Linked DNA regions of Homo sapiens. The protein of the gene in region 4 interacts with the protein of the main gene of each other region in a biochemical or structural test. Each region holds a gene or a part of one and is shown on either strand. Other genes may lie near its edges. The genes, in order: MPP7, GRIP2, CARD11, SH2D3C, FRMPD3, FRMPD1 and RAPGEF6.

The links.
Region 1: the proteins of SH2D3C (region 4) and MPP7 interact in a test that uses a peptide from one of them, tested with the Homo sapiens proteins (one large-scale study listed by IntAct).
Region 2: the proteins of SH2D3C (region 4) and GRIP2 interact in a test that uses a peptide from one of them, tested with the Homo sapiens proteins (one large-scale study listed by IntAct).
Region 3: the proteins of SH2D3C (region 4) and CARD11 interact in a test that uses a peptide from one of them, tested with the Homo sapiens proteins (one large-scale study listed by IntAct).
Region 5: the proteins of SH2D3C (region 4) and FRMPD3 interact in a test that uses a peptide from one of them, tested with the Homo sapiens proteins (one large-scale study listed by IntAct).
Region 6: the proteins of SH2D3C (region 4) and FRMPD1 interact in a test that uses a peptide from one of them, tested with the Homo sapiens proteins (one large-scale study listed by IntAct).
Region 7: the proteins of SH2D3C (region 4) and RAPGEF6 interact in a test that uses a peptide from one of them, tested with the Homo sapiens proteins (one large-scale study listed by IntAct).

What each region holds. Positions count from the first base shown.
Region 1 is NC_000010.11:28,118,065-28,121,564, reverse strand, and holds part of MPP7 (MAGUK p55 subfamily member 7), read left to right. Parts: intron 1-896; coding exon 897-971; intron 972-1,174; coding exon 1,175-1,371; intron 1,372-1,849; coding exon 1,850-1,914; intron 1,915-2,503; coding exon of another isoform or gene 2,504-2,508; exon of another isoform or gene 2,509-2,706; intron 2,707-3,500. UniProt on the Homo sapiens protein: Acts as an important adapter that promotes epithelial cell polarity and tight junction formation via its interaction with DLG1. Involved in the assembly of protein complexes at sites of cell-cell contact.
Region 2 is NC_000003.12:14,516,343-14,519,842, reverse strand, and holds part of GRIP2 (glutamate receptor-interacting protein 2), read left to right. Parts: intron 1-1,945; coding exon 1,946-2,071; intron 2,072-2,629; coding exon 2,630-2,779; intron 2,780-3,500.
Region 3 is NC_000007.14:3,033,868-3,037,367, forward strand, and holds part of CARD11 (caspase recruitment domain-containing protein 11), read right to left. Parts: intron 1-3,500. UniProt on the Homo sapiens protein: Adapter protein that plays a key role in adaptive immune response by transducing the activation of NF-kappa-B downstream of T-cell receptor (TCR) and B-cell receptor (BCR) engagement.
Region 4 is NC_000009.12:127,744,167-127,747,666, reverse strand, and holds part of SH2D3C (SH2 domain-containing protein 3C), read left to right. Parts: intron 1-395; coding exon 396-520; intron 521-2,567; coding exon 2,568-3,103; intron 3,104-3,500. UniProt on the Homo sapiens protein: Acts as an adapter protein that mediates cell signaling pathways involved in cellular functions such as cell adhesion and migration, tissue organization, and the regulation of the immune response.
Region 5 is NC_000023.11:107,561,152-107,564,651, reverse strand, and holds part of FRMPD3 (FERM and PDZ domain-containing protein 3), read right to left. Parts: intron 1,542-3,500; coding exon 1,452-1,541; intron 1-1,451.
Region 6 is NC_000009.12:37,649,764-37,653,753, forward strand, and holds the start of FRMPD1 (FERM and PDZ domain-containing protein 1), read left to right. Parts: upstream 1-1,190; 5' UTR 1,191-1,331; intron 1,332-3,990. UniProt on the Homo sapiens protein: Stabilizes membrane-bound GPSM1, and thereby promotes its interaction with GNAI1.
Region 7 is NC_000005.10:131,625,230-131,628,729, reverse strand, and holds part of RAPGEF6 (rap guanine nucleotide exchange factor 6), read left to right. Parts: intron 1-3,500. UniProt on the Homo sapiens protein: Guanine nucleotide exchange factor (GEF) for Rap1A, Rap2A and M-Ras GTPases. Does not interact with cAMP.

The DNA.
Region 1 (3,500 bases), on a different chromosome or scaffold from region 4:
TCTGAGATAACAAAAACTTGTGGGTGCTGGTACTTATTTTAATGAAGTTAGAATAGATACTCAGTCTTTTCATCTTTCAATTAATCTATTACGTTGGATATTTTACTCGCTCACCAGAATACAATAGATATGAATGTTCTTTATTTTTTTTTTCTGATGGGCATTGCCACTAATTGAATCATGTATTTGTAACTGCACTACTGACATTATAGGTGTTTTGTCCCCCAAAACATGGATGCTGATACTTAAATGTAACTGTATGAACCTTGTACATTATTCTTTAAAAAAAAAAAAAAAAGCTTCTTGCTCTGTCACCTAGGCTGGAGTGCAGTGGTGCGATCACAGCTCACCGCAGCCTTGAACTCCTGGGCTCAAGAGGCCTTAGCTTCATCACCACGCTTGGCTAATTTTTAAAATTTTTTTTGTAGAGACAGGGGTTTTGCTATATTGCTGGTCTTGAACTCCTGGGCTTGGGTGATCCTGCCACCTTGCCTCCCAAAACACTGGAATTACAGACACGAGCCACTGCACCCAGACCTTTATACATTATCTGTTCTAGTCATTGAATACTGTGTTTATTTAAGGTGTTGTGCATATTTTGTGTGTTTCTATTTCGAAGAAACTTGGATGGGAATGTATTTACTTGACAGCTTAAAAGTACACAGGAAGTAAAAGTGGATTTAGGAGTTAATGTTTTTTAACTTATTCTACAAACTTCAGAGCTTTCTTTCTCACATTACAGGAATTTCTACAAAAATAGTTTCCTCCGTTTAGTCTATCTAAGAGTAGAAGCCCCAAGCTTGTAAATTTTCAGATGCATTTCACTTTCTACCTATTTTACCTTATTCTTCCTTGGGTCTGGTTTTCTTATAACTCCTTGTTTTATCTGTTACCAGGCTCAGTCTCAGGGAGCAATTACATTTAAGATTATACCCGGCAGCAAAGAGGAGACACCATCAAAAGAAGGCAAGGTAATTATTGCTTAAAAACATTTCTTCGTGCGTGGGAGGGAAGTCATGTTTTTCCATCCAACACATATCCACTTTGTCACAACACATTTCTTTCAATATTCCAGTTTTAAAATTACTATGTTTGGAGTCGGAGTTAGGAGAATATAGGCCATTTCACATTTATTTTTTATCTTTATTCATCTTTAATGAAACTTTTCTTCCAGATGTTTATCAAAGCCCTCTTTGACTATAATCCTAATGAGGATAAGGCAATTCCATGTAAGGAAGCTGGGCTTTCTTTCAAAAAGGGAGATATTCTTCAGATTATGAGCCAAGATGATGCAACTTGGTGGCAAGCGAAACACGAAGCTGATGCCAACCCCAGGGCAGGCTTGATCCCCTCAAAGCATTTCCAGGAAAGGTGAGCTGCTGGTACATAATAATGGCTTTTCTCCAGCTGACCTTTTGTTCTCTGCAAAATATCATTCTGGCATTGATGTGATAAAATATGCTATAAAACCTTGCCTTAGAATTTTTTATCCTGTGGGTTTGGATTTCTGTTTTGTCTAACTAAGTATGATGAATGACCAAAAATAATATGACAGTACTGGGTCATATTAGATTTTTGTTATGAAGCAAATGGAAAATAGCACATTAATATCTTGAAACCATGTTGATATGAAAGGTGGAAAAAAAAAAGACCAGTGGTTTTGGAGGGAGGGAAGATAATTTACAAAAATTTGAAAGTGGGCGATTTGTTTCTTAATTTGAATCTATTGCATTACATTCATTTTTTTCTCTAACCTTTAAGTTTTTTCTTAAGACTAAATATTTTGATATTGTATTCACCTCGGACCTGTGCTGAAAATTGATAGGTATGTTGACCTTCTTTCTCCCAGGAGATTGGCTTTGAGACGACCAGAAATATTGGTTCAGCCCCTGAAAGTTTCCAACAGGAAATCATGTAAGTTTGTTAATAAGAATGCAGAGAAACCAAACCCTGATGTTTATTTTTGACTATTAAAGCAGGTGCTCATGGCAGAACAAAGGGTCCTATTACCCTAGCAATAACTTTGGGATCATCAGTTCTCAGGAACAAACAAATATGAGATTCATATTTGGAATATTAACATGAATCTTTTGAGGAAAGGGGTGGTTGAGGTTGTTAATAATAAATCCATGACTCACTCTTTAAGAAAGTGACTACTACTACTACTGTCTTTGATTTCCAAATATAGTTATTTTATTAAATGTCACCTAAAATACAGCTCTTCCTTCTTCAAAGCCAGGAAGTTTGGGTTAGGTATTTCTTGGTAAAGATTAGGGAGAAAAAAAATCTACCATTTTCTTGGGTACAAAAGCAATTGTGCTCAAGACCAATTGTTCTTAATTCCTTTCTTATCCCCAGATCATAATACTTCTGACCTTTAGCCTATCCCTTTGGAGTTATTACCAGACTAGATTAAAAGAAAATGAGAGAAAGACAAAGGATGGCTACCGTATGACTACTGAAAAACTTAGTGTGCATTTAAATACTTTTTTTTCTCTTTCAGCCTAATCTTCTGTCAGCTTTTCTTTATTTCCCACCACCCAGCTCTTCAAGTCTGCATCCCATAAATTCCCTGTTCCACCTCGCCTAGATGTTTCATGGTTCTAGGTATTTTAAGAGGAAAAAACCAACCCTTTGTTTTTAGCATAGAAACTGTACATTAAACAGCGAAATGACCAAATAAATGGCCCTGGAATTTTACACCAACATCTGTTTTTAGTATTGTTGCATTTTTCACATCTCCTGTGATTTCTGTCAGTTTGCAGAAGCATATAGCCCAGGAATCACATTAGAAGGGAGCCAAACTGTAGTCGAGTATAAATCTCACAAGCAGGCAAATGCTTAAAGTGGAGCACTCATTCAAAAGCCTGCTTGTCCTTGCTACATTAAGTCTAGGCACAAGGAAAAAAACCCTTGTCACAGAATGCTACAAGTCTTCTGACATCAGAAAACTTAAAGCTTTCGTGAGAATATTGCACTGTTCTTAAGCGTGATGACTTTTCACTGGCCAACTCACTAACAGAAAGGAGCTTTGAGGCTCCTTGCCTGACTGGCTCTCAAAGGGATTTTTAAATAGGAGGCTTACACATTTCTAATATATTTGGCATATGTGGGATAAGATAATGTGTCACTTAAAGATGAAATAAATGTAATTATACTCGAATCTGGATCCATACTCAACTCTTTTTCAGTCCTAGGCAACTTAGAAATGTACAGTTTGATATTATTATAAATTTTCATTGATTGAAAATTTTTGATAAGTGTATATGTATTTCTTTAAAAGAACTATACAAAAGGGATATTTTGCTTTTTAATAGCTCTTTCAAACTGGTTTCTATATAGATGCATAGGAAGGTGAGGTGTGTGTGGGGGTATGTGTGTTTGTTTGTGTGTGTATGTAGAAGTATTAATTGTAACGGAGTCCTTTTGTATGTTGATTTGCATGATTTCTTTTTTATGTTAATACTTCAATATTTGGATCTGATAAATATTTATTCTAG
Region 2 (3,500 bases), on a different chromosome or scaffold from region 4:
AGGGCTAGAATGAGGGAGGGAACAGTCCTGTGCTCTCTGCTACTCAGAGCTTAGATCCTGGGCTCTTCTCAGTGACTCTCAGCAGATCCAGAGGAGGCAGCTGGGAAGTTAGAGAGGGCCTGGAGTTTCTCCTTTGAAGAGTCAGGGTCTCCCAGCTATGAGCAGGGAGCTGGGTGCTGGGCATTTCCAAGAGCAGAGGAAGTGGGTGGTCTGGGGGTCCAGAGGGCACAGTTGGGGCCAGGGGCAGGGTGGGGGGTGGCCACAGAGGGGCAGCTTTCAGCTCAGGGCAGGAAAGCACGTCCAGCAGCCCAAACCTTGGGCCTTGAGTGAAAGTCCCATCTTTGCTCCCAGCAGCTGGACAAGTGCTTTTCCCTCTCTGAGTCCCAGTCATCTCATCTGTAAAAAGGAGGGAGGACTTCTAATGCACAGACATGGGGGAGGCTGACGGAGATAAAGGACAAGGCACAGCCCAGGCCTATAAATCCTAGCCCTAAGGGCAGAGCTGGAGGGTGAGGAAGGAGTCTGTCCACCCCACCCTTTGCAAACCCCATCTTCTGGAAGAGAACGGAATCCCCCACATCTGATTGGGAGGACAGTTCTTGGGGAGAGTCCATCTCTATGGTCTCTGCCAGCTTCTGAAAAAGCCACACTGAATGAACCACAGTCCAGGGACTGGTCTGGGTGACATTAGGGCTTGAAACAGCGTCATTCATTCTCGTACCATTTATCGAGCATCTGCCACGTGCCAGGTTCGGTGCCGCGGCCTGCACGCCTCATTACTTCCTCATGACACCTCTCTGAGCTTAGTCTTACTGTCCTCCCACTTTACAGGGAAAGCTGAGGTAGCGTTGCAAGGCTACACATCTGCGTACAACCCCTTGGCTCTCATTAACTGAGCTTCTACTAAGTGCCAGGCACTGCTCTAAGCATGTTATATTATTAACTCATTCTAACCCTCCCCATTACCCGAGGAGGTGGCCACTCTCTTGGTCCCATTTTACAGATAATAGCACTGAGGCACAGATAGGCGAAGTGACTCCTCCAGGTCCCGCAGTTGGTCAGGGACAGAGCTGGGATTTGACCCAGGCAACTGGCTCCAGAGTGGGCCAAGCCCTGGGGAGGGGGGCTGTGGAGATGTGGCTCAAGGAGACAGAATCAACGGGCTGAGACAGTTGAGTCCTCACCTGTCCATCCGCGCAAGAGGAGAGCTGGCCTGGGGCGGTCTGGGAAGAGGTGTTGTATGGTGGCCAGTTTGGAGGATCAGATGGAGGAAGCAGGGTCTCCTAGGGGGTCGGGGCAGTGGGGGTTCCCTGGGAACTTGGAACAGGAGTGCAAAGAATTCACTGTGGATAAGGCTGGGAAGGGTTGCAGCCTGGGAAGGGGGAGCAGCCTCAGCCCGTGGTGCACTTCAGCCTTGGCCAACCCAGCAGGAAGCCCTGGAGCAAAGGCTGTCCTGGAGAGTCGTGGGGCAGAAATAGCCAGGCCCTAGTGCCCCGGTGCTCAGCCACTGGCCGAGGCTGCCTGGGCTGCAGAGCCACTGCATATCCCCAAAGTGCTGCAGCTGGACACCGTCTGCCAGCTGCACTCCTCACCAATTCTTTCTTGGAGAAACTTCATGGCAGCACTCATAGCCATAGACCTCTCCGGCTCCAGGGCAGGATGCCTGTGTTCAAATCCCTGCTCCACAACCTCCCAGCAGTGGGCCTCGGCCTGGCTTCCTTTCTCTCTCCTGTCCCTGCCTCTCAGGCTGCCATGTGGCAGCAGCTGCACTCTGAACACAGTGCCCGGCACATTGTAGGCGTCCGGGACATGTGAGCAGAATACTAAATGCCTTGCCTGGCTCAGGGGAAGCACGAGGATCTTCTGGTTCTTGCTTTCCTGGCTTCATAGTGCCCTCAGCCACTAACGCCTGCACCTCTCTTTCCTCTTTCTCCGCTGGCTACAGTGAAAGTGCAGAGGAGTGAGCAGCTGCACCGCTGGGACCCCTGCGTGCCCTCCTGCCACAGCCCCCGGCCCGGCCACTGCAGGATGCCCACCTGGGCCACACCTGCTGGCCAGGACCAAAGCCGATGTAATGTGCCTGCCCTGCTGTAGCTCAGCCAGTCTTGTAGCCTTTCCTAGGGAGGGGGCGATGCCTGTTGTCTAAGGGAAGGAAACTCAGACTCAGAGATTAGTGAGCTGGGTGTGGTGGTGCACGCCTGTGGTCCCAGCCACTCGGGAGGCTGAGGCGGGAGGATCGCTTCAGCCTGGGAGGTTGAGGCTGCAGTGAGTCAAGATCACACCGCCGCACTTCAGCCTGGGTGACAGAGCGAGACCTCAACTAAAAAAAAAAAAAAAAAAAAAAAAAAGAGAGAGAGATTAGGTGGCCTGCCTCATTGTCATCTAGCATGCCAGTGGCAAGATTGGCCCCGTCCCTAATAGCTGAGTTTCACAGGGTCTATGGAAACCCTGCAGTCTTTGAGACCCAGAGAGGAAAGGGACTTGCCTGAGGTCACACAATGAGTAACTGATGTGAAGGGGGAAGGCATCCCCATCTCTCCCTGTGGTTGGGTGGCTTCCCAGCACCCACTGTGTGGTGGGGTGGAGAGCCTCGGCTGGGGTTCACGGGGCTGTGCTCTCATCTCCCCAGCCTTGTCTTCAACTCCCTTTTCCTCGCCGACCTTGAACCACGCCTTTTCCTGCAACAACCCCAGCACCCTTCCCCGTGGATCCCAGCCCATGAGTCCTCGAACTACAATGGGGCGGAGGAGGCAGCGAAGAAGGGAACACAAGAGCTCGTGTAAGCTGTGGTCTCTTCCCTCCTCCTTGGGCTGCTTGTATGTCTGAGAGTGAGGCTTGCCAAAGGGTGTATGTCAGGGCGAGGGGAGGTATTTTGGGCAGAGCTCCAGGTGTATGCGTGGGAATGTTAAATAACATGAGTGGAACACCAGGCTGTCATGGATGGTTGGGCAGGTTGTGCACTGCTCAAGAGGACCACTGAGAGGTGCCAGTTACTTTGTACACTTTTATTCTTGTATTTTTATTATGAAAAATTCCTAGGATTTGGTGATAACGTCCTTGAGGAAAGGAAGTCTTTTCAGATGTGCATGAAGTTTTCACATTTTTTGCCATTCAGTCCTGATTCATTCATGGATAAAGCCTCAGTGCTGCGTTACTATATCCTTACCACCTCTCTGCCATTTGTTAATTTCCCCTAAGACAAAGACATGGCCTGAGACTCTAGCTGTCCAGAATGTAATAATTTCCAGTCTTACTTCTCTGCTTATTTATTGTTCAAAATTGCCCTTTTGAAATAAAGATATTTACATGTTAAGAAAAGTAAATCAATAGAAGACAAAAGTAGTGAATGATAAGGCAGGAGCCCTGTGGAAGTGGCAAAACACAATAATGCCTAAAATTTTGAAACCCTTCTTGGGAACAGTCTTTCCTTTGTTGATGCAGAAAGGGTTCTCAGCCTCCTGCCACATGAGCTGCAGAGGCCTCCAGGAAGGATAGAAGAT
Region 3 (3,500 bases), on a different chromosome or scaffold from region 4:
GACATAAGGTTGATCTTTAAAATATATTTTAAAATTACAGCTGGGCACGGTGGCTCATGCCTGTCATCCTAGCACTTTGGGAGGCTGAGGCGGGCGGATCCCCTGAGGTCAGGGGTTCGAGACCAGCCTGGCCAACATGGTGAAACCCTATCTCTACTAAAAATACAAAATTAGCTGGGCATGGTGGCACACACCTGTTATTCCAGCTACTCAGCAGGCTGAGGCAGGAGAATTGCCTGAACCCGCGAGGTGGAGGTTGCAGCGAGTTGAGATCACACTACTGCACTCCAGCCTGGGCAACAAGAGTGAGACTCTGTGTCAAAGAAAATAGAACTGTATATATATAATTACTAAATTATATATATAAATTATATAAATAGATATTATACAAATATAATTATACATATTATATACAATTATATATAAATATATAATTATACATATAATTACATATATAATTTTTTAAAAATAATATGTATATATGTACAAATTACTTAAGAAAGATACAGGGCTGGGCACGGTGGCTCACATCTGTAATCCCAGAACTTTGGGAGGCTGAGGCTGGAGGATAGTTTGAGTCTAGGAGTTCGAGACCAGCCTGGGCAACATAGCAAGACCCTCATCTCTACAAAAAATAAAAAAATTAGCCGGTCATGGTGTCACATGCCTGTAGTCGCAGCTACTTGGGAGGCTGAGGTGACAGGATTGCTTGAACCCAGGAGGCTGAGGCTGCAGTGAGCTATGATGGCACCATTGCACTCCAGCCTGGGCAACAGAGCAAGACAAAATTACAGCAAACTTCCACATAAAATGAGTGAGGAGACACGGTGACCCGTCCCCGGCGCACAGACGGCCTTCTGCTTGTACCGGAGCTGGGTCCTTTCCCCACTAGGTCATGCTCTTCGCCAGTCTAAGACCTCCCCGGGCTCAGAACACTCGGAACAGGGCCCGGTAAAAGGCCGTCCTTTAAGAAGGAGGAGAAACATTTTTCAAAGATCGAGAACTCTCCTACGAAGAGCCAAGAGCCTCTGCGTGCCTCAGGGACTCAAACGGGGATCACGGTGCCTGTTCACTGGCAAACAGGGACCCCCATGTCAGCTCGCAGAGGCTCTCCGCAGGGTATCAAGCTGCTTCTTGAAACGCGTCTGAGAATTGAAGTCAGGAGTCTTGGAAGGCGGTGTGAGGTATCGTTATTATTCTGCTGAACGTTTCCCCCGGAACCAACGATACCTGAATCCCTTTAAAAATAGGCCATTTCTTCTTAGAAGATTTCCACGAATCACATAATCCTTACGCAGAGGCAGGCAACGAAGCACTAATGTCAATAACGTTACAGTTTTACTTCACAGCAGCATTTATCCACTGACATAGCAATTTACTAAACCGCAGAAAACGCCGGCACAGGGCCTCTGCTTGCCCTTGGATTTTTTTTTTTTTTTTTTTTTTTTTTTGAGATGGAGTCTCACTCTGTCACCCAGGCTGGAGTGCAGCGGCGCGATCTCGGCTCACTGCAGCCTCCGCCTCCCGGGTTCACGCCACTCTCCTGCCTCAGCCTCCCGAGTAGCTGGGACTACAGGTGCCCACCACCACGCCTGGCTAATTTTTTTGTATTTTTAGTAGAGAGAGGGTTTCACCGTGTTAGCCAGGATGGTCTCGATCTCCTGACCTCTTGATCCGCCTGCCTCGGCCTCCCAAAGTGGTGGGATTACAGGCGTGAGCCACCGCGCCCAGCCCTCCTTGGATTTTTTAAATTTCAGAGACAAGGTCTCCTTCTGTCGCCCAGGCTGGAGTGCAGTGGTGCAATCACAGCTCACTGCAGCCTCTACCTCCTGAGCTCAAGTGATCCTCCCACCTCAGCCTCCTGAGGAGCTAGGCCCACAGGCATGACCACTACACCAGCTAACTTTTACATTTTTTGTAGAGATGGGGTCTTACTATGTTGCCCAGGCTGGTCTCAAACAACTAGGCTCAAGCCATCCTCCTGCCTCAGCCTCCCAAAGTGCTGGGATGATAGACATGAGCCACTGTGCCCAGGCTGCTTCCAGATTTTTTTTTTTAAAGGGCCATCACCACCAAGACACGTATAAGAATGTTCACAGTGGTTTCATCATAACAGCCCCAAACTGCAAGCAACAGAAACATTTATCAACGGTCAGGTGGATAAGTAAATTGTGGTAATTTTTTTTTTTTTTTTTTTGAGACAGGTCTCACTCTGTCACCCAGGCTGGAGTGCAGTGGTGCGATCTTGGCTCACTGCAACCTCTGCTTTCTTGGGCTCAAGCAATTCTCCAGCCTCAGCCTCCCGAGTAGCTGGGATTATAGGCGCAAGCCACCAATGCTTGGCTAATTTTTGAATTTTTGTAGAGACGGTTACATCCTGTTGCCCAGGCTGGTCTTGAACTCCTGAGCTCAAAGCAATCTGCCTGCCTTGGCCTCCCAAAGTGCTGGGATTACAGGCATGAGACACAGCGCCTGCCCCTATTGCGGTAAATTTATGCCATGAAATACTGTGTAGCAATGAAAAAGAAACATTGAATGTGACTCCGTCCACGTCAAGTTCAAGGACAGGGATGGTGATAGAGGTTGGAAGGGTCCTCCCTTAGGGGACAGGGGAGGGGTAACGACTGGGAGGGGATATGGCACTTCCCCAGAACCTAGAAAGGACCCAAATCTTGATCTGGGTGATTGGCTCCAGAAGGGCATGTGAAGGCCCGTCAAGCTGTTTGTACGCTTAAGACTGTACTGTGTGTGTGTTATACCTTAATTTTTAAAAATTATTATTATTATTATTACTGATGGGCAATCAGTTTTACCTTTCTTTTTTATTTTATTTTTAGAGATGGGGTCTTGTTCTACTGCCCAGGCTGGAGTACAGTAGTGCAATCCTAGCTCACTGCAGCCTCAAACTCCTGGGCTCAAGTGATCCTCCCATCTCAGCCTCTGGAGGAGCTGGGACTACTACAGGTGTGTGTCACCATGCCTGGCTAATTTTTTAAAGTTTTTTTGTAGAGGTGGGATCTCACTATGTTGCCCAGGCTGGTCTCGAACTCCTAGGCTGAAGTGATCCTTCCACCTGGGCTTCCCAAAGTGTTGGGATCACAGGTGAGAGGTGCCACGCCTGGCCTATCAAACTTTTTGATGTTTGCCAGTCTGACAGGTGGAAAACGCTATGTCCCTGTTGTATTACTTCACATGGATTTAATTACAAACGAAGCATGCTGACTGACCTGCTCATATTCCGTGTGTTTGTACCCTTTCACCATTTTTTCCATTGGTTGAATTCTCTAATTTTGGGGTCTGGACACTCCCACTGAGGGTCCAGTCCTGTGCCATCCACTGTGCCGAAGGTGGCCATACTCACTCCCAACTGCAGCCGCCTCCACCCCGCAAGGACAGAGTTGCTAGCTTCGACAGAGACCCTCTGGCTCACAAGGCCTAAAATATTTACTATTTGGAGCTTTCGAGAAAAAGTGTGCCAGTTCCCATGTCTCATTGGTTTA
Region 4 (3,500 bases):
CTCGGAGGCTGAAGCAGGAGAATGTCTTGAACTCGGGAGGCAGGTTCAGCAGTTGCAGTGAGCTGAAATCACGCCACTGCACTGCAGTCTGGGCGACAGAGTGAGACTCCATCTCCGAAAAAAAAAACAAAAAAGAAAAGAAAAAAGACAAAAAAAGAAAAAAAGAAACCAGGCGTTCTAGCCACCAGGGTTCCTAGCTCTGCTCCTGACTCGCTGTGCCCCCTCCCTCATCTGGGCTTCAGTTTTTTTGGTACCTGTCAGTCGGGAGGTTGGATTTGATAATCTCCAAGCCTTCTCTGCCTCTGAAGTTCAAGGTGCAGAGGTGGGGGGTCCCAGAGGCAGGCTGAGGCCCCTGACCTCCGGGCTCCCTGCCCATGATGGTGTCTGCTCCACAGTACGTCGCTGCCCCGCCCTCGGGACTCCATCCGCAGCTGTGCCCTCAGCATGGACCAGATCCCAGACCTGCACTCACCCATGTCGCCCATCTCCGAGAGCCCTAGCTCCCCTGCCTACAGCACTGGTATGGCCAGCAGAGGGGGTGGAGCAGGTGGAGGGAATCTGTTGTTGAAGACTTCTGTCACCTATGTGTGGTTATGTGTGTTTCCGCCTCTTTTATGAGGCGCGACCTTTACCAAGAGAAAGAACTGACACTGGAATCCTGCTAACAGAACTGTTGATATCAACATATAAGATGTATCCATGGTTTGTTTATTTAGCAACTATTTATTTGTTTTTGTGACAGTTTTGCTCTTGTGGGCTGGAGTGCAGTGGTGGGATCTTGGCTCACTGCAACCTCCGCCTCCTGGGTTCAAGCGATTCTCTTGCTTCAGCCTCCCAAGTAGCTGGGATTACAGACCCCTGCCACCACGCCTGGCTAATTTTTGTATTTTTAGTAGAGACGGTGTTTCGTCATGTTGGCCAGAGTGGTCTCGAACTCCTGACCTCAGGTGATCCACCTGCCTTGGCCTCCCACAGTGCTGGGATTACAGGCGTGTGCCACCATGCCTAGCTAATTTTTGTATTTTTAGTAGAGATGGGGTTTCACCATGTTGGCCAGGGTGGTCTCGAACTCCTGACCTCAGGTGATCCACCCGCCTCAGCCTCCCAAAGTGCTGGGATTACAGGCATGAGCCACTGCACCTGGCCTCTATTTTTCTTAATAGACTTTATTTTTTAGAGCAGTTTTAGGTTTGCAGCAAAATTAAGTGGAAAGTACGGAACACTGTGCTTTCTTATAAATACGAAGAAAGTTTCTCTGTTAGAAACATTCCAATAGATCATTTCTGGAAAAAAAATAAAAAGAATGTTTTCAACAGGCCGTATTGTCCACGTGGCAGGCCAAGTGTCACGAGAGGGGGCTGACTCAGGAGGAACTTTCGCCTAGGGTGGCATTCCATTGAAGTGTTGCTGTCTGTATCGGTTGTCACAAATCCTTCCCTAAACACAGAGCCACCAACTTTGTCATAACTACAAACTTGATTTCAAAGCAATACCCTGAGTATAAAACCTAAAATTCCTTGCCAGAATGACTTATTGGACAGTTTCTAAGCAATCTGGTATAGTAAAGCAGCCCAGATGTCAAGACTTAAATCTCAGCTGTACCACTTGCTGGCTGGGTGACCTTGGGCAGGTTAGTGCACCTCTCTGAGCTTCACTTTTCTCATCTGTAGAATGAGGATTATAAAAGTACTTACTTCATAGGACATTGAAAGGATTAAATAGACTGAGGTACAAAGAAGGGTCTTGCAGGCACTAAGAGCTTAGTAAATATCGCCTTTGAGGTTTGATGATGGTTTTACTGTCATTATGTCTCCAGCATGTTGCCAGCTCCTAGCACACAAGGTTTAGCAACAAATCATTATTGCTAATTCAGGCCGGGCATGGTGGGGCACATCTGTAATCCCAGCTACTCAGGAGGCTGAGGCACAAGAATTGCTTGAACCTGGGAGGCGGGGGTTGCAGTGAGCTGAGATCATGCCATTGCACTCCAGCCTAGGCAACAGAGCGAGACTCTGACTCAAAAAAAAGTTAGCCAGGCGTTGTGGCACATGACTGTAATCCCAGCTACTCGGGAGGCTGAGGCTCAAGAATTGAAGAATTGCTTGAACCCAGGAGGTGGAGGTTGCAGTGAGCCTAGATGGCACCACTGCACTCCAGCCTGGGCCACAGAGCGAGACAGTGACTCAAAAAAAAAAAAAAAAAAAAAAAAAAGGAAATCATTATTGCTAATTCGTCGAGAAACAATCACATGTGGCACAAGAAACTCCAGCAGGTACTCAGCTTCCCCGGATCACTGAAGCTCCTCCAAGCAGTGGGTCCCCAAGGCTGCAGCAGCCTCAGGGTGGGGCCATGCAAACTCCTGGGTCCTGGTGATTTCAGAGCATCACCTGGGCTGGTCAGCTTGCCAGAGTCAATCGGCCCTGGTCTCTGGTGATGCAGGGAGGTGGGGACATCACCTCTGTACTCCCTACAAGGAGTGAGGGAGCCTGTTCTTTGGGAAGGGGTGCGGGAATCTCACTTTGGTGGGGAGCTGCTATAACGGGGCCTCTCTCTCTACCTTTCTGCAGTAACCCGTGTCCATGCCGCCCCTGCAGCCCCTTCTGCCACAGCATTGCCTGCCTCCCCTGTCGCCCGCCGTTCCAGTGAGCCCCAGCTGTGTCCCGGAAGTGCCCCAAAGACCCATGGGGAGTCAGACAAGGGCCCCCACACCAGCCCCTCCCACACCCTTGGCAAGGCCTCCCCGTCACCATCACTCAGCAGCTACAGTGACCCGGACTCTGGCCACTACTGCCAGCTCCAGCCTCCCGTGCGTGGCAGCCGAGAGTGGGCAGCGACTGAGACCTCCAGCCAGCAGGCCAGGAGCTATGGGGAGAGGCTAAAGGAACTGTCAGAAAATGGGGCCCCTGAAGGGGACTGGGGCAAGACCTTCACAGTCCCCATCGTGGAAGTCACTTCTTCCTTCAACCCGGCCACCTTCCAGTCACTACTGATCCCCAGGGATAACCGGCCACTGGAGGTGGGCCTTCTGCGCAAGGTCAAGGAGCTGCTGGCAGAAGTGGATGCCCGGACGCTGGCCCGGCATGTCACCAAGGTGGACTGCCTGGTAGGTGCTGGCTGTGCACTGGGGTGGAGGGAGCATCTCTGTTCTGTGGGGCAGGGCAGTGAGAAGCTGGCTCCCAGATTCCCCAAGTACAGCAGGTGGGCCTGGATTCTAGCTCCATGGCTGTCCTTTGCCTGCTCTGTGACTCTGGGCTGGTCATTTAGCCTCACTGGGCCTCCAGTTTCTCCTTTTAAAAAGGCCGGGGGTGGTAGCTCACACCTGAATCCCAGCACTTTGGGAGGCCGAGGCGGGCGGATCACCTGAGGTCAGGAGTTCAAGACCAGCCTGGGCAACATGGCGAAACCCCGTCTCTACTAAAAATACAAAAATTAGCTAGGCGTCGTGGTGGGCGCCTGTAATCCCAGCTACTTGGAAGGCTGAGGCAGGAGAATCACTTGAA
Region 5 (3,500 bases), on a different chromosome or scaffold from region 4:
CAGGTTGAGTAAAGTGCACAGGCAGAAGGGCTAGCTCAAGCAAAACCGTGAAGTAGGTGAGGTTTGTTTGGGGGCCTTTGGAGCACCCTCCCCTTCCAAGCCCCAGGGGCTTTCCATTTGTTGCTGCAGGCCATTTGAGGCCCCCACCCAGTGCTCTGCCTGAGAAGGCGGCATCCTGTGTCTGGTCTTTACCCTCCCCCCACCAACAGCCACTCAAACTTGCACTTCTCACCCAGGCCAAAAACTAAACTGGCACAGTAACTCTGCCTAAGGTGTTGAGGGTTGATTGGGTACTTCATGGCAGCCTCCCTCGTTAAGCAGAGATTTGCCTTTTAATGGGCACTCCAGCAGGTATGGCCAATAGAAATTTTAGCAGTGGTAGGTGGGTGGAAGAAAGATTTGACAGTGTATGAAGGAGGTGGGAGGGGACAGTGGGCTTTCAGTGTTCTGCAAATCCCAGTATGTAAATGGCTACCTCTCGGCCTGAAGGACTGGATTCCCTTAAGAGGTCTTGACAGATTCCTTGGAGCAATCAAGCTTGGGTCGTCTGGAGGCCCATTCCCTGGTATTAGCATCACCCTGAGGAACCTCTTGTGCCTGTCTATAGGCACTTTGATAAGTGGCTTTCCACCGATGTGCCGCACTAGCTGACAATGTGCTCCTGGGAGCAAGACAAGCACCTGGATCCAATTAGCAAGGTGATTTGAATTTCCTTTCACCAGGGTAAACTAGCCTGGGGCACAGTCTTAGGGTGGGACCAGCTGTGCCCTGCCCCAGAGCCTTGTTCCTGCAGCAAAGGTGCTGAGCAAGCAGGGGGAGAAGTAGAAGGACTCAGGAAACCTAGGGTAGGGGACTGTGGGAGTATGTGGAACAAAAATGAAATAGAGCAGGGGTTGCCTAACCATGGCCCATGGGCCAAATACCACCCACCACCTATTTTTTATGGCCCAGGAGCTAAGAATGGTTTTTAGATTTTTTAATGGTAGGGAAAAAAAATCAGAAGAGGCATGTTTTGTGACATGTGAAAAGTACATGAAATTCAAATTTTCGTATCCATAAATAATTATTGGTAAACAGCCACACCCATTTGTTTATGCATTGTCTGTGGCTGCTTTCATAATCTGACAGCAGGGCTGAGTAGTTGCCACAGTTGCCAGTATGGCCCGCCTGCAAAACCTAAAATATTTACTATCTGGCCCTTTATGGAAAAAGTATGCTGCGCCCCCAAATCGAGGAAGAGGAACAAAAAAAGGTCATGGAGGGATACTCAAAACAAATATCTCCTCCCACTTTATCATTTTGGCAGAGGCAGGGCCAGGGAGGTAAGAGGTAGAAGGAGGAGGAAGAGGAACGAAGGCCTTTAGAAATATTTGCCCCTCCTGCCCCCACACCCAAGGACAAGAGCCAACAAGGGGCTCCCTCCCCACATCCCCCAATCCTGCGCCACTGACCAGGCCTACAGTGTTGAACAAAACGCCCGTGAAGGTAGGAAGTTCATTCAGAATTCGTAGATACTGGAGCTTTGCCTGAATTGCAGAGCCCTGTGGAAAAACCCATCCAGAAATATGAGAAGCCTGAGGGGCACAGGAAAAGCAAACCCATGTTCTCAACGAGGAGTCTCAACATCCTAGGACAGGCACCAGTCAGCAAGTGACACTGTGGAGATGTGAAGATGCCCTTCTTAAAACAGCAGCAAGGTTCTAGTTTGGACAGCTCTTCCCTCTAGTATCTCATCTCCCTTTCTAAAATCTTGTCCTACCTCCTGATCTTCATTCCTAAAGTATCCAGCTTACTCATTTTGTTTTTGGTTTAATTCCAACTAACTGACGCCCCACCTAATCCATACCTCTCTCCTGAGATGTTTCAGACCCCTAGAGTCATGTACATGCTGGTCATTCCCCAGCTGGGGGTCCCACTCAATACCGTTCATACTAAGCATTCCTAAGTCCCAAGCCTGCACTTCAGGCATTCCTGGTCTATATCAGCATCCCCTGGGCAATCAAGCCAGAAACCTGTGAGTCACACTGGACTCCTCCTTAATCGCCTCATGTGAGAGCCAGCAGTTACCAGATCATCTGGATACTTACCCCCTAGCTCCTTTTCCAATCTATCCATCCCTCTTCTCTAGCCAGTCATTGCCTTGACATTCCCACCTGTGTCAGGGTGACAGCCAGGTTACCTTCAGGACTGACACTTGTTTCCCTCTTTCCCTCAAGTGCCTCCACACTGTTAGAGGGAGCATCCTAAAACATAAGTTTAATCACATCAGCTCCCTGCTTTAAACCCTTCAATGGCTCCCAGCTGCCTAGAGGATGAAGTACAACCTCTTTCCTTGGCACACAAGGCCCTCCATGAACTGGCTCCTGCCAACCTCTCTGGCCTCTTCTCTTGCCCCTATCTTCACCCCTTGCACACAGCTTGCATTTTCTGTACTTGCTTAGGCTGAATGATTTGCATTTCTGTCCTTGCACCATGGTTTCTCATATCTCTGGGCCTTTGTACAGATGGATCTCTCTGCCTGGGAAACACTTCCTCCCATGACCCATGCCCACGGATTAATCTAGACAAACTCTTATCTGTCTTTCAAGACCCAGCTCTGGCCTTTTCCACCTCCCTCAGGCTGGGCTTAGTGTTCTTCCTCTGTGCTTCCAGAGCACCTGTGCCTAATGCACTGTGTTGGGACTGACTAATGTGTTTCCCCATTAGACTGTGCCTGACTCAGGGGCCAAGACCAGGCCCTCTTCATCTTCATATTTCCAACCCAAGCACTGGGGTGCCTCGAAAAAAATGTTACCTGAGGAGATGGTGGTGAGCACTGATGCTCTCAGTTGAGAAGAAAACAATCTGATTAAATATTCACAGCAAGGTGGGAATGGCTTAACTCTCCGGGGAAATTTGCATCTTAAAAGAGAAGCTAGTTGGTAATGCAAGAAATCTGGAATGGGAGGAATGTATGGGGCGATTGCGTCCCATATGTACATCTGCATGCTGATTCTAGTGCGTCTCACCACTCTCCTGCTTCTAGGGCAGGAAGCACAGGCAGATTGAATCTTACAAAGCTAAGAAGCTGCTGCGGGGCTTGGGAAAGCAGACAGTGGGAGTCCCTCAGAGCACTAGAAAGTGGAGGCAGTAACCTGATCCCTCACCATTCCACCCAGTGACCCATTCTCCAGGTCAGGTCTTGTGCCCCCAACTCTCCCACTTTCCCCTGGGCTGGGGTTTTGTCTCCCAGAATTCCACACCCTAGGACTGATGAATTAGAGGTACAGAGGTACATTTCCTTTTTTTACATTTTTTTTAAATTATTTTTTTAAAAGTAAAGACGCTGTCTCACTATGTTGCCCAGACTGGTCTCAAACTCCTGGGCTCAAGTGATCTTCCTGCTTTGGCCTCCCAAAGCGCTGGGATTACAGGCATGAGCCACCACACCAGCCTAGTCATTTCCATGGAAAACATGTGCCTCCCTAGGGTCCAGTGCTTTCCACATGATACATGCTCAG
Region 6 (3,990 bases), about 90 Mb from region 4:
CTGCCAGTGCACTGGGAACACGGTGCAAACTCCTTGACCAGGAATTGGCCCCTGCTGACTCCCCTGCTTTATGTCTCAACTCCTGCCACTCCCTCTGTGGGATCTCTCTCATCTTGGGGTCTTTGTTCCTGTGGTCTCAACCTGAAAGGCTCTCTCCACACTCCTCCCTTTCACTGGCCAATTCCACTGGCCTTTCAGGTTTCCATTTAGAGCATGCCCTCTCCAGGAGGCCTTCACTCAGTCAGTGCAGGCCTGAGTGGTGCCCTTGGCCCCGTGGGATTGGGTTATTGTTACAGGAACTGGACTGTATTTTAATAGTCCTAGACTGTACATTCCATGAGGACAGGGACTGCTTTATTAAAGGTGTATTGTATCTCCAGTGTCTAATGCAGGATATGGACCTCGTAGGTGTTCAGTAGAGTTCAGCACGGAAAATAGTGCACAGACACATGCATTTGGGTATCATGCTCAGAGAGGCGGTAGGACCAGAACCAGGGGAGTGGGTGAGACGGCTCAGGGGGTCAGAAAAGGGCTGAGTGCAGAGTCCCAGGGCGCTCCGGCATTTTAGAGCTTCTGGTTTGAGGAACCCTCAAGGAGACCGAGGGAGTGGCTGGAGAGGGCCGAGGAAAGCTAGGAGAACACAGTTTCCCAGCGCGGAAGGAGTTTACAGAGACAGGGGAGGTGGTCCACAGTGCCTACCGTGGGCCCACGCTCTCCCTCTCCCTTCAGCCGAACACCTGCGGGGCGTGGGGGTCAGGGGGCGAGTCCCCCAGGGCTCCCCGTAGCTGGGGCTCTTCCTGGGGAAAAGGAGGCGTGAGAAGGGGGTCGTTTTGGGAACTCTTCTGGGTTCCAGTTCTGGCCCAACCACCGCTGGTCCGGGTGACCTTGGGGAGTCCCTTTCCTCTCCCAGCCTCAGTCTCCCCCCTGGGTACTCAGCGGACGCTGCGTGCCCCGGCGGTGAGCTGAGGCAGGCGGCGGAGGCAGGGCCCGGGTGGGAGCGGGACCGCCCACTGCGGCGGGCCGGGACCTCGGAGCCAGCGGAGGCGGCGCGCGGGGCTCCTCCCCCGGGGCGGGGGTCGCGGCGCCGGCAGCTGGCGGCCGCGCAGCTGCAGCCTCAGCACCTGCCGCCGCCAGACGGCGCGGGCGCGGCCCGGCCCGGCCAACCCCTCCGGCTGCAGCCTCGGCGCGGGAGGCGGAGCCCGAGCCGAGCCCGAGCAGCGCTGCTTCCCGAGCCTTGGCCGCGACCGTGCCCGCCGCTGGGCGGGGCCGCCCTTCTCCGAGAGCGTCAGCCCGCTAGGTCCTTGTCCGCGCGGGCGGCACCTCCTCTGCAGGTAAGGGAGGGGTCCTGGCACCGCAAAGTTTTGGGGAGACGGCCTGTCCCCACACCCCGGGCCTGCGCCTCGGCTTCCTCCGCGCCGCCCTCCGCCTGCACCACCAGTCCCGGGTGACCCGCGCCCGCCTCCGGTCCTCGTGTCCCCAAGCCCGGCTCGGGGGCGCGTCCGTGGGCTAGCTCAGGACCTGCCATCGTGAACTGTTTGCACAGTAGCGATGTGTGCTTAAGTTTCCGAGATCTGCATGGTGTAGTGAGTGGAAACAGCGGCAACGCGGGAGGGGGAGAGACCTGGGTTCAGGTGCGGCCGCGGCCAGCGCCAACTTTCTGAGTGACCTCAGACCAACCCTCTCTGTCCGTCCTCGATGGCCACACCTGAACCAGAAGGGGTTCGCCAGGGACGATCAGCTGCAGTGCCAATGCCTGTGTTGTCATTTTTTGAGTAGAGGGGCATCCCTGAGTGTCTCAGCTCCAGAACTCATTGCGTGTGGAGAGGAATGAGCCACAGAAGTCAGTCTCCAGGGTCGCGTCGCTAACTTGCAGCAGCTTTGACTGAGCTTTAGTGGGGGCGTTGAGTCAGCCTCGGGAAGCAGGGGATGCCCCTAGGGTTAGGAGTCAGGACTCTGGCTTCTGGTGGCTCCTCTGCCATACACCCACTGTCTGTGTGACCTTGGGCAAGTGCCCCCTGCTTTTGCCACCTATAAAATAGGGTGGAAGTCGTGTTCACTAGTTGTTCGCTGTCTCTTTCAGCTGTAAACTCTGGAGAAGCGGAACCTCCGGATCTCTGCATTTAGTCAGTTTGGGTGGAGGCAATATTTCACCAAGAATCCATCTAGCACTTGCAAATGAACGTTTAGAAAATAAAGGAGGCATTTGCAGTTTGCTTTGGAAGTCCCAAAATAGACATGGGGAGGATTGGTGAACGCTCAGTTCGCCTTCTTCAGTGCTTTGGACCGTCATGAAATATTCAACGACATAATGATTTGTTTTCAAAGTGGCTTATAGATCAGGAAGCGTTTCTGTTTGTGAGTCGGTTATTTTTGTAAAAACCTCAGAATGGTTGTTTGGGAAAAAAAAATAATGCACTGTTCTAGGGGTCCTGACCTAGAGGCCAGCATCTACTTGTTTCTAGTCTAAGATGATGGTTGAGATGATTTCCAATCAAGACAATTTCGGGCATCCTTTGGTCGGTGTTGAGTATGGGTACGGTTAAGGAGCCAAGTTCATCTTTTCCAGGACTGGTGCATTCTGGCACAGTCACAGCAAAACAAGCACGAGGTAGTTAACTGTGATATGCTAGAAAGTGAAATTTATTCTTTTGCCCAATATCTTGTTCCCCTTGTGCTGCAATTAGTGGCTCCCCAGTGTGTGGGTGAAACGCATTACCACGAAAGGATTCTCACAGAAGTGATTTTATGATTTTATTTCCTTCCTCGACATCCTGGTTTTAAGTTTCTAGCATTATGAAATCAGAGAGCTGGTGAGGGTGTGCTTGGTGACCAGAGCAGAGTTGTGGTACCTAAGTTTGTCTTTCCTGAATGAGACCCCATCCTTGAAGCTAATTTGTCCAGAGCCTTTTATCTCTCTGACGCATTCAAATGCCACCAGTCTTTTCCCTCTTCATTCTCTATTGGTTCATCAAGCACTTTCTCACTACTCATTCGAGAGGACACAAACATGAAAATTACCAACAGGCCCTACCCTCAAGGAGCTTAGGTTCTGTTGGGGAATAGAGAGGCTTGTGCCACAGGATCTTCATTGTGGGCTTTATCGCCTGGGATTCCTGTGAACACTAAGGAGGGTGAATTCCAAGTGGAGATATTGGAGAAGGCTTTACAATGGAAGGTGGAGGAAGAAGAGGATTTCAACAGGTGGTGAGGAATAGAAAGGCTATGTGTAGGTCAAGGAGCTGGTACGAGCAAGGAACTGGTGAGAGCTGGGAGAGCATGAGACAGATGAGAGCAGTGAGCCTGGTGGAAGCACAGAGAAGGCAGAGCACTTCAGAGACAGGGCAGCGGGAAGAGGCTCTGGAGGCTCTGAACCTGGGCTGGAATCCTCGCTGGCTGTGGAGTATTGGGCCTCCGAGCGTCACTTTTTTAATTCGTAAAACGGGAATAATAATAATTCCAAACTCACAAGATTAAATGAGATCATGTATAACAGTGTCTAATAGGATGTTTGCATGTAATAGGTGTTGGATAAAAGTCAATTCTTTTTATCAGAGGGTTCATGGGCAAGCTGAATAAGTGTTTGAAGGCACCATTGGAGTAAATAGTGCTTTTGGTTTAAGCATGTGCATTGATTTAGAACCTCACCAGCAGCAGAGAGTTCTTGTGACAATGTGATGTGTCCTCGAGGTGCCTCCTGATTCAAGGGGCAGGGGCTTTTTGTTATTTGGAAGGTGTTCAGATCAGATACTAACATCAACAACAGGCAATGCCCTGTAAATACTGTTAGGTGGTGGGAGGTCACAGAAGGCTAATCAGAAGGCTCAATCCCTGCCTCACACAAGCTTATCACTATGTACTCAAGGACCCAGATTGGTGGGGGAGGGGGGCAGATTTGACAGACACAGCTCTAAATATATCAGCTTTGTCCATATAGCTGGGAGCGGGGTACTGGCTCCCTTCTGTCTTAGATTTGCAGTGGTCAAAGAATAG
Region 7 (3,500 bases), on a different chromosome or scaffold from region 4:
CTTAAAGTCACCAGCTGCATTATCCTCTAACAGGAGTCAGCCTGTCCTTTGAAGCTTTGAAGCCAGGCATTGATTTCTCCTCTCTAGTTATGGAAGTCTTAGGTGGCATCTTCTTCTGATATAAGGCTGTTTTGTCTACATTAAAAATCTGATTTTTAGTGTAGCCACCTTCATTAATTATCTTAGCTAGATCTTCAGGATAACTTACTTTTTATGTTAGTGGAGGTGGCTTTTTTTCGTAAACTTCATGAACCAACTTCCACCAGCTTCAAACTTTTCTTCTGCAGCCATCTCATCTCTCAACCTTTTTAGAATTGAAAAGTTAGGGCCTTGCTGTGGATTAGGTTTTGGCTTAAGGGACTGTTGTGGCTGGTTTGATGGTTTATCTAGACCACTCAAACTTTCTCCATATCAGCAATAAGACTTTTTCACTTTTTTTTTTTAAATCATTTTTTTGTTCACTAAAGTAGCACTTTTAATTTTCTCCATGTGCCTTTTCTTTGCATTCACAACATGGCTAACTGTGTGGTGCAAGAGGCCTGGCTTTGGGCCGTTGTTAGCCTTCCTAAGTTTAATCATTTCTAGCTTTTGATTTAAAGTGAGAGATAGGTGACTCTTTTCACTTGAACACTTAGGGGCCATTGTAGGGTTATTAATTGGCCTAATTTCCGTATTGTTATGTCTCAGGGAATAGGGAGGCCCCAAGAGAGGGAGATAGAGAAGGTGGAACAGCCAGTGGAACAGTTGGAACACATACATCAGTTACGTTTGCCATCTTACATGGGCACAGTTTGTGGTGCCCCAAAACAATTACAGTAGTAACATGAAAGATTGCTGATCACAGGCCACCATAGCAAATATAATGAAAAAGTTTGAAATGTTGTGAGAATTACCAAAATGTGACACGGAGACATGAAGTGAGCATGTGCTGTTGAAAAAAATGGTGCTGTTGGACTTGCTTGATGCAGGGTTGTCATGAACCTTCAATTTGTATTTAAAAAAAAAGAAAACAACCCCACAATACCAGCCAAGCACAATAAAACAGAGTATGCCTGTACTTCTTTGCGTCATTATGCCAGAATTCCTTAAAGAAGCCACAGTCATAATTAGACCTTGAACTTGGCTGTTTCTCAGCTCAATCCACATTTAATACCATTCTTTATAACGTTCCTTTTTTTACTTCAGAATGAACTCCTTATATTTCCCTTAATGTTTATTTCCCTCTCAGTGCTTAATGCCATGATTTGCACATATTAAATGATGAATAAATATTTTACAAGCCAAAATTTGGAAATACATTTTGTAAAGTCATCATATGTTAAAAAGGTAGCACTTCGTATTCATTGGAACTGCTAACTTTTTGTTTCTTGGACAGTCTTACTCAGCAGCTTGGTTTCAGTTAGTTGTTATAGGCTAATGCCTCCTAGGATTATGTTTTCCAACTTATCCCCTAAATTTTATGTGCTTCAGCTTCATATATCAACCATCTTGTCCTCCAGGTTCTTCAACCACTTGTCCTAAATTGAGCCATCATTATTCCTCTTCCTTCATAATCTGTTGGCAGCTGGCCGAGTTGCTGTCTCTAGGAATTTGTATTATTTCTCTTCATTCCTCATAGATGCAACTTGCCACTAAACTTTGTCCCCTGAATCTTTTTATTTGCCCTTTTCTTACAAGTTTTACTACTCTAATTCAGTCTGTTTTATTGTTTCTACCCCCAAATTATTGCTTGAGTCATTGAGTCTTGCTGCTAGAGTGATCTTCCTCTCAGATCTGATTATGTTCTACTCTTGCTCAGAATTTTATTTCCTATATTTCCTAGGTATAGATTAACAATATGTTGTTCAAATCATTTTTGTGAATTAAAAGAGAAGCTGTTAATATTTATTTCAGAGTAACAGGTTAAAGAGGGACTGTCCCGCTTAAACTGAGATATGGTTACCTCACCCAGATGATAACATTAATTTGTACATTCATTTAAGAAATAATATATCTGATATATTAAAAACCAAGGTTGTAGAGAGGAGTTAGACATGGTCCCTATTCATCAATGACTTGGGAGACATAAGAAAACATAAATGTAATAAATGTTTTAGTTATTAGTGACAAAGGTATGAGTAGGGCTTTGGGATTGCAAGATGGGGAAGGGAACAAGCTTCATGGGGGAGCATTGAATTCCCAGTGTTAAATGTCATGAATTGATTTCTGGATGATCAAGAGAGGTCATTCCAAGCAGAGAGGCAGGAGCAAAAGTACTGATGATGGCAAGCCATGTATACTTGTAGAATAAGAAGCCAATCTGTAAGTCTAGAGCAGGCATTCCCGTTGGAAGTGATATCGCTCCCAAAGATGCAAAAATTGCCTTTTATGGGAGTGGGAAAAAAAATCACAGCTATTGGTATGGTTTGTGGCCCTCTAAAACTCAGCCCTAAACTGACAGTGTCTTATTCTTTAGTATTTAATTAGAGATGGGGCAGTGCTTACGAAAAATTGTCTGAAAGGTTCTTTGGGAGGGGATGAAAATGAAAAAAAGGTTGCAGAACACTGGGGCTAATGTCTAGGATGTTTGGGGATGATGGTACATGATGTGAGATGTTTAATGATGAAGCTGGACGTACTAGCAGGGTTTGGATAATTTCAGAAATTTGGACTCCATCTTATAAATAAAGGAGAAAGAACCGTTGCAGGGTTTAAAGCCTGGAAATAAGATCAGTTTTATAAAGACTACTATGTGAGCATTTTGGAGATGTAATTGAGTGGGGAGGAGCAGACTAGAGACAGGGAGGCTTATAGGTATACAGGTAGACTGGACATGTATTTTATCCAAACTGGGATATTTTCCATGTGAAAGGTAAGACTACTAGTGATTATACTAAGATAATATGGAAACCAAGAAGTATGGTTTTTTTTTTTTTTTTGAGACGGAGTCTCTGTCACCCAGGCTGGAGCGCAGTGGCGCTATCTCGGCTGACTGCAAGCTCCACCTCCCGGGTTCACACAATTCTCTTGTCTCAGCCTCCCGAGTAGCTGGGACTACTGCCGCTCGCCACCATGCCTGGCTAATTTTTTTGTATTTTTAGTAGAGACGGGGTTTCACCATGTTAGCCAGGATGGTCTCGATCTCCCGACCTCGTGATCCACCCACCTCGGCCTCCCAAAATGCTGGGATTACAGGTGTGAGCCACCGTGCCCAGCCACCAAGAAGTATGTTTTGTTGTTAGAAACAAATACAGTAGTTCAGGTGTGAGATAAGGTCCTGGACCCAGTGGTGGCAGCAGTTAAGTGGGATAGTGAGGTATTAAGGAGGTAGAATTGGCCCAACCTGGTCACTGGTTGGAAAGATAATTTCTCCTCCTCCCCCAGACTTTTTTGAAAAACTTTGAAATGAACTATAAAACATAAAGTCCATATGCCCTAAATATACATTGGCAGATGATTAATTTGTTTTGTTTGTTTGTTTGTTTTTTGAGACGGAGTTTCTCTCTTGTCTCCCAGGCTGG